2 linked regions of the Homo sapiens genome follow. The protein of the gene in region 1 purifies or fractionates together with the protein of each later gene. This does not show direct contact. Each region holds a gene or a part of one and is shown on either strand. Other genes may lie near its edges. The genes, in order: ZNF215 and ZSCAN18.

Region 1 (3,823 bases):
TTGAAAAGATCAGCAAAACTGACAAAGGTTTAGCTACACTGATCAAGAAAAAAAGGACTCAAATTACTAACATCAGGAAAAGTGGGGACAATACTACTGACTTTGCATAAAATGAAAGGGCTCATAAGAGAATACTAGGAGCAATTAAATGCCAACAAATTAGATGCACTTAGATGAAATTCACAAATTCCAAAAACACAAATGACCAAAACTGACTGAAGAAGAAATAGAAAATCTGAACTCAACTCAGCAATAACAAAAGACTGGTTTAGTTATTTTTAAACTTTCAACAAAGAAAACTCAAAGATGATATGGCTTCACTGGTAAATTCTACTACACTTTTGAAAAATTAACACCAGTATTCTCAAACTCTTCCAAAAAATAGGAGGAACACTTCTTAAGTTATCCTGTGAGGCAAGTATTAATCTGATGCCAAAGCCAGACAAAGACATCACAACAAAAGAAAAATGGCAAACCAAATCCAATAGCGTTTTAAGAGGACTATACAAAATGACTTAGTGGGATTGATCCCAGAAATGCAAGTATGGTTCAACAAATGAAAATATATCAGTGCTGTACATCATATTAATACAGTGAAAGGGGAAAAATTACACGATTATCTCAATTGATGCAGAAAAAGCATCTGACAAAATCCAATGCCCTTTTATGACCAAAAAAAAAAAAAGGACTAGAAGTGAACTCACTCAGCCTGACAAAGGACATTTATGAAAAACCCACAGTTAACATTGTACTTGATAAACTTGATGAAAAAGTGAAAGCTTTGTTCTTAGAATCAGGAACAAGACAAGAATGTCCACTCTTGCCACTTCTATTCAATGTCATACTAAACGTTCTAGCTAGTGCAATTAGGCAAGAAAAAAAGAAAAGGTATCATGATTGGAAAGGAAGAAGTAAAACTATCTCTACTGGCAGATGTTATACTCTTATATATCCAAAATCCTAAAGAACCCAGTAAAAAACTATTAGACCTAATAAACTCAAAGTTGCAGGATGCAAAGTCAACAAAAATAGGTTATGTGCCTATAGCAATGAACAACCCTTAAAAGAAACCAAGAAAATAATTTCATTTATAATATGTCAAAAATAGAGGTGTAGGACTTGTCTGCTGAAAAGTACAAACCATTGTTGAAATTAAAGACCTAAGTAAATCCTGCGTTCATGTATTGGAAAACTTAATATCATAAAGATAACACTCCCCCAAAGCAATCTACAGATTCAAATGCAATCCCTATCAAAATCTCAGCTGCTTTTTTTTTTTTTTTTTTTTTTTTGTCAGAAATGGACAAGCTGATCCTAAAATTCATAAGGAATTGGAAAGGACCCAAGATAGTCAAACTGCCTTCATAAAGAAGATAGTTTTAGAATGTATACTTCTCAATTTCAAAACTCACTAAAAAGCTGCAATAATCAAAGCTATGTCGTACTGGAATAGAATTAAGAGTCCAGAAATAAACTCATACATCTATGTCCAGTTAATTTTTGACAAGGGTGTCAAGGCATTAAATGAGAAAATAATAGTTTTTCAACAAATATTGCTGGGACCCCTTGATTTCCATATGCAAAAGATTGGAGTAGGGGCCTTACCTCATATCATGTACAAAAATTAACTCAAGATGGGTCAATTGTCTAAATATAAGAGCCAAAATCATAAAATTCTGAGAAGAAAATATAGAAATAACTCTTCATCACCTTAAATTTGGTAATCAATGCTTAGCTATGACACCAAAGATACAAGCAACAAAAGAAAAAATAGATAAATTAGACCATCAAAATTAACACTTTTGTGCATCAAAAGATACCATCAAGGCAGCGAAAAACCTACAGAATGAGAAAAAACATTTTGAAAATCATATATCTGATAAGGGTCCAATATCAGGAAAATATAAAGAACTCTTACAATTCAATAACAAGATAAGGAACAGTTTTTTAAATGGACAAAGGACTTGAATAGATATTTCTCCAAAGAAGATATACAAATGGCCAAAAAGTATAGGAATAAATGTTCAGGATCATTAGTCATTAGAGAATTGCAACTCAAAACCATAACAACACCCACTAGGATGGCTATAATAATTACAAAAGGAAAACGAATAGGGTTAGCTAGGATGTGGAGAAATTGTTTGGAATTGTATATCGTTGTTGGGAATATAAACTGGTTCAGCCACTGTGAAAAACACTTTGGTGGTTCCTCAAAAAATTAAACATAGAATTACCATATACCCCAGAAAATTGAAGACACATATTCACATTAAAAAGTGGAAACAACCCAGATGTCCATCAACTAATGAATGAATAAACTTTGCTATATACATACAGTGGAGTATTATTCTGCCATAAAAAAGAATGAAGTACTGATACATGTTAAAAAAAAAATGGATGGACCTCCAAAACATGCTAAGTGAGAGAAGTCAGACCCAAAAGGTCACATACTATATGATTCAATTTATGTGGAATGTCCAGAATAGGCAAATTCGTAGAGACAGTATAAGGAAAGGGAGTGTGTATGAGAGTGACTCCTAAATTAATATGGGGCTCTTTCTTGGTAATGAAAATGTTCTGGAATTAGATAGTGGTGATCATTGTACAACATTATGAATGTATTAAAAACCACTGGATTGTATTCTTTAAAATAGCTAATATGGTGAATTTTATATTATGTGAATTTTGCCTTTTTTTAAACTTAAATTCTAAGCTTAATAGAGAATGAAGTGACTTCACTAGAGCCACGATAGAATGGGAGAAAATTAAAGAATCAATGTAGTGTAATGGGACTCTGATAAAAGTTGGAGAATATACAAAAAGCAAGGAAGTAAAAATTGAAAGGATAGGAAGATGCATTTAGCTATTGATTTATCCAATTTTATACTCATGGCAGGATAGTTCTAAGTAATAAAGACCAGAGTATGAGCAAGGAAGTAGATTGTTTGCTGATGGTCATTAGAGATAAGAAAGTCAAAGGTCTATCAGTCTGGGTTGCTGGAAGGGGTGTCTGTGTCAGTGTTGAAGCAACCTATTAAAAGACTGTCAGGATTTGGGGTGAAAAGCAACAATGTGAAGCAAGTAACTGAAGTTTTTATTGGCCTAGTACAATTACTTTAGTGTTGGTCATTCACAGTACATTAGGCTCTCTGAGGGCAGGTATTTGTGTATCTCGCACATAGGAGATAGTAAATATGTGTTGAAAAAATGAATGCGCAATAGCTTAATATATTACAGCATCAAGAACAGTATAGCTAAATGGCATAGACTAGTAAGAAATATTTTTGCATGAGAGAAAATACTAGGAAGTGGAAGGGAGGTACAAGTAGATCAGAACAATTTCCAAGATCGTAGTGCTTAGAGGATAGAAAAAGGTGCCTTTGATGATGCCAAGATCCATTTAGCAAGGGAGAAGGAAGAGTCTGTAAAGAACTTGAGAATGTATATAGATTTTTCTTTGAATGGAATGAGGGTTTCAGAAAACATGACGGTAAAACTTCAAGAAGGGGAGGTCAGCAGGGAAGAAGTAAGGGAAGAAAAGGACATTCAGAGAGAGCAATAAATAGGATAGCTGATTGGAGAGATTTGCACCTTTCCAAGATACCTCAGGTATTTCCAAGAATGTCAAGAACAAGGAACAACATTGTATTGATTGTCCTAAAGATTATGGAATTGAGCAGATTGACATTCCACAAAGTGTACAGACCTGAATAAAGTTAACAGATCTCAGGACCAGGCTCACACTTGTAATCCCAACTCTTTGGGAGGCTGAGGCAGGAGGATCACTTGAGGCCAAGAGTTCAACACCAGCCTGGGCAGCATT
Region 2 (3,823 bases), on another chromosome or scaffold:
TGTGCACACACATTATGGAGCTCACAGTTTGTTTTGTGGAGACAGGTTCTCTGCAAGGTGAACAAGCCTCTGGCGTCCTAAGAAAGCCAAAATTACATGCCTGCAGGACCACACCTCTGTCCATGCACCAAGTAGAGCTCTGTGCCTCCATTGCCAGGGGGTAGAGCTGGCGTCACGCCTCCCATCAGGAGAGGCTCCAGAACAGGGGTTAGCGTACCCACCTGCAGGCCAGCAGTGACCTGTTTTGTTTGTATTCATTAGAGACAGGATCTTGCTGTGTCGCTTATGCTGGAGTACAGTGGCACAAACATAGCTCACTGCAGCCTCCAACTCCTGGGATTAAGGGGTCCTCCCACATTAGCCTCCCATGTAGCTGGGACCACAGGTGTGTGCCACCACGCCTGGCTAATTTTTTTTTTTTTTTTTTTTTTTTTTTTTTGCGACAGGGTCTCACTCTGTTACCCAGGCTGCAATGTGGTGTTGTGATCACAGCTCACTGAAGCCTTGACCTCCTGGGTTCAGGTGATCCTCCAACCTCAGTCTCCAGAGTAGCTGGGACCACAGGCATGCACCACTGTGCCTAGCTAATTTTTCTATTTTTTGTAGAGATGAAGTTTTGGTATGTTGCCCAGGCTGTTCTTGAGCTCCTGGGCTCAAGCTGTCCACCTACCGTGGCCTCCCAAAGTGCTGGGATTACAGGTGTGAGCCACCACACCTGGCCACCTGTTTTTGTAAATGAAGATGCATAAGAACATGCCAAACCTGTGGGTACGCACAGGGCTCTGGTTGCTTACTTGCCACGAGGCAGAGTTGAGTAGTTGAAACTGAGACTGTCTGGCCCTTTATATCTGCTATTCTCTGTTCCTGGAGGATGAATAAGAGGATGTATTTCTTTTTTTTTTTTTTGAGACAGAGTCTCACTCTGTCGCTCAGGCTGGAGTGCAGTGGCGCGATCTCGGCTCACTGCAAGCTCCGCCTGCCGGGTTCACACCATTCTCCTGCCTCGGCCTCCTGAGTAGCTGGGACTACGGGCGCCTGCCACCATGCCTGGCTAATTATTATTATTTTTTTTTTTGTATTTTTAGTAGAGATGGGGTTTCACGGTGTTAGCCAGGATGGTCTCGATCTCCTGACCTCGTGATCTGCCTGCCTTGGCCTCCTAAAGGAGAGGATGTATTTCTAATCCCAAGGGAAAGAAACCCTTTTTAAGTGGGTTTCTGAACTCCGAAGTCCAATTTAAAAAATGGTTGAAGGCTGGCTGCAGTGGCTCACTCTTGTAATCCTGGCACTTTGGGAGGCCGAGGCGGGTGGATCACTTGAGGTCAGCAGTTCGAGACCAGCCTGGCCAACATGGTGAAACCCCGTCTGTACTAAAAATACAAAAATTAGCTAGGCATGGGGCAAGTGCCTCTAACCCCAGTGACTCGGGAGGCTGAGGGAGGAGAACTGCTTGAACCCAGGAGGTGGAGGTTGTGGTGAGCTGACATTGTGCCACAGCACTCCAGCGTGGGTGACAGGGCGAGACTCCGTCTCCAAAAAAAAAAGTGATTGCATTAGATAGTAAGAAACATTAGGACATTACCTGTGACCAAAAGACAGCGTGGAGTGAAAAGACAAGCCACAGATGGGGACAGTAGCAAGATAGAGCCAGACAGGGAACTCGTTAACTGGTTGACAGAAAGAGCTGTAAAGAAAAAGTCACGGGAAAGTGGGCAGTTTACCCGCCCTCAGAGATTAAATCATGAGAAAGCGCTCAGTCACAGAGCAGGCAGATGCTTGGGTCTGAGGGTCCTCTGGCAGCAGGTGGAGTGTGTGAGGAGAGAGGGCACCCCGGTGGGGGCTGCCATAAGTAGGTGACGGTCGTGAGGTTGTCCCCTGTGCCCTAGCTATCCTGCTTCTCCATATGTCCTTTAAATAGATCAGAAAGGACCCCACAGAGATGGACATGAGGGTCCACAACTGCCAAAAACAAATGAGGCACAGCCAGCATACCCCTCAGCAGAACTGCACTGTTTGCACAGTCCACACACACTGAGCCAGCTCTGCCCAGGCCAAGGGACCTGCCTGTGAAGAACCCTTACTCTCCTGGGTATGCATTCCAGTGGGGGAGGCGGTCAGTAGGGAGGTAAAAGGCGGGGGCAGTGAGCGGGTGTCAGGTGGGTGCGTGCAAGGAGTGCAGAGGAAAAGTCTCCCGGAGGGGCCAGTTGAGAGCTCAGGCCTATGAGGTAACAAAAGGGTGGGGGTGGGTGCAGTGGCTCACGCCTGTAATCCCAGCACTTTGGGAGGCCCAGGCAGGCGTATCCCTTGAGTCCAGAAGTTACAGACCAGCCTGGGCAACATAGTGAGATCCCTGTCTCTACAAAACAAATTAAAAATTAGCCAGGTGTGGGTGATGTGCACCTTTAGTCCTAGCTACTCAGGAGGTTGGGGTGGGAGGATCACTTGAGCTCAGGAGGTTGAGGCTGCAATAAGCTATGATCATGCTACTGCACTCCAGCCTGGGTGACAGAGTAAGACCCTGTGTTTAAAAAAAAAAAAAAAAAAAGTAGAGGTATCGTGGTGGTGGTGATGATGGCACGGCATGGCTCTGTTCTGCTTGAGGTAAGTGGAAGCTTGTGTAGAATGTCTTCCAACAGCACTTAAGAGTTCCGCACTTCCCTTTAAACTCTGGTAGCCACAGAGAGAGAGGTTGATAGTTGACTCTCTGCAAACTTCTGGTTCTTTTTTTTTTTTTTTTTTTTGAGACAGAGTCTCGCTCTGTCACCCAGGCTGGAGTGCAGTGGCATGATCTCAGCTCACTACAGCCTCCACCTCCCAGGTTCAAGCGATCCTCCTGCCTCAGGCCTCCTGAGTAGCTGGAATTACAGGTACCCACCACCACACCCAGCTAATTTTTGTATTTTTAGTAGAGAGGGAGTTTCACCATGTTGACCAGGCTGGTCTCGAACTCCTGACCTCAGGTGATCTGCCTGCCTCGGCCTCCCAAAGTGCCGGGATTACAGGCGTCAGCCACTGTGCCCAGCCCTGTTTTTTTGTTTTGTTTTGTTTTTTAAACAGCTTATTGAGTGTAATTTACATACTGTGAGGTTTACCTATTTAAAGTGGACAGTTCATTGGTTTTTAATATGCAGTACTCACCGTTGAGCATTTTCACCAACCAAAGAAGAAATCCTGTACCCATTAGCAGTCCCTCCTCATTCCCCCAAACCCCAGCCCCTGGCAACAGCTGATCTACATTTTGTCTCCATAGATTTGCCTGTTCTAGATGTTTCATTTCTGTGGAATCACACACCACACCCCACCCCACAGCGGTGAGGTCTTTGCGCCCCATATTCTGGTGGAGCACTGTCAGAGCAGAACTTGACGACCTGAGAAGGGCTCACAGCACCTGGCCTGGTGTGGTTTACTCTATGGTTTTCCCTATAAAACTGGGCTTGCTGCGGCTGTGGGAAATCCCCTTCCAGCTGTCTCTGTGGACCTTCAGACCCAGGCGGTTCCTGGGAGAAGGTGGACAGCTGCAGTTCACACCCTTGTGTGTCCATAGCCAGTGACATGAGAGCCCGAGGCCGACTGGAGGCCTGGACAGCTGTGACCCGCTGGGTTCTGTTTAGTGAGCTCATTGTTGGTGCACAGTTACAATCAAGAGAGTTCATCCTGAATACTGGCTTCACTTAATGATAGGGCTGCCCTGTATGTGGGGATTCAGCTGAGGGTGGGGCACAGGTTGGCAGGACCTGAACTCTCTCAGTCATTGTGGTCTCCCCCACCCCCCACCCCCCATTGTCCTTGCTCCTGGGTACTTCCTGCCCCTCCCGCCTGGTTC

The links.
Region 2: the proteins of ZNF215 (region 1) and ZSCAN18 purify together in Homo sapiens (co-immunoprecipitation; 2 studies listed by BioGRID and IntAct, with this or other methods). This does not show direct contact.

What each region holds. Positions count from the first base shown.
Region 1 is NC_000011.10:6,936,219-6,940,041, forward strand, and holds part of ZNF215 (zinc finger protein 215), read left to right. Parts: intron 1-3,706; exon of another isoform or gene 3,707-3,797; intron 3,798-3,823. UniProt on the Homo sapiens protein: May be involved in transcriptional regulation.
Region 2 is NC_000019.10:58,091,494-58,095,316, reverse strand, and holds part of ZSCAN18 (zinc finger and SCAN domain-containing protein 18), read left to right. Parts: intron 1-1,918; exon of another isoform or gene 1,919-2,089; intron 2,090-2,532; exon of another isoform or gene 2,533-2,601; intron 2,602-3,823. UniProt on the Homo sapiens protein: May be involved in transcriptional regulation.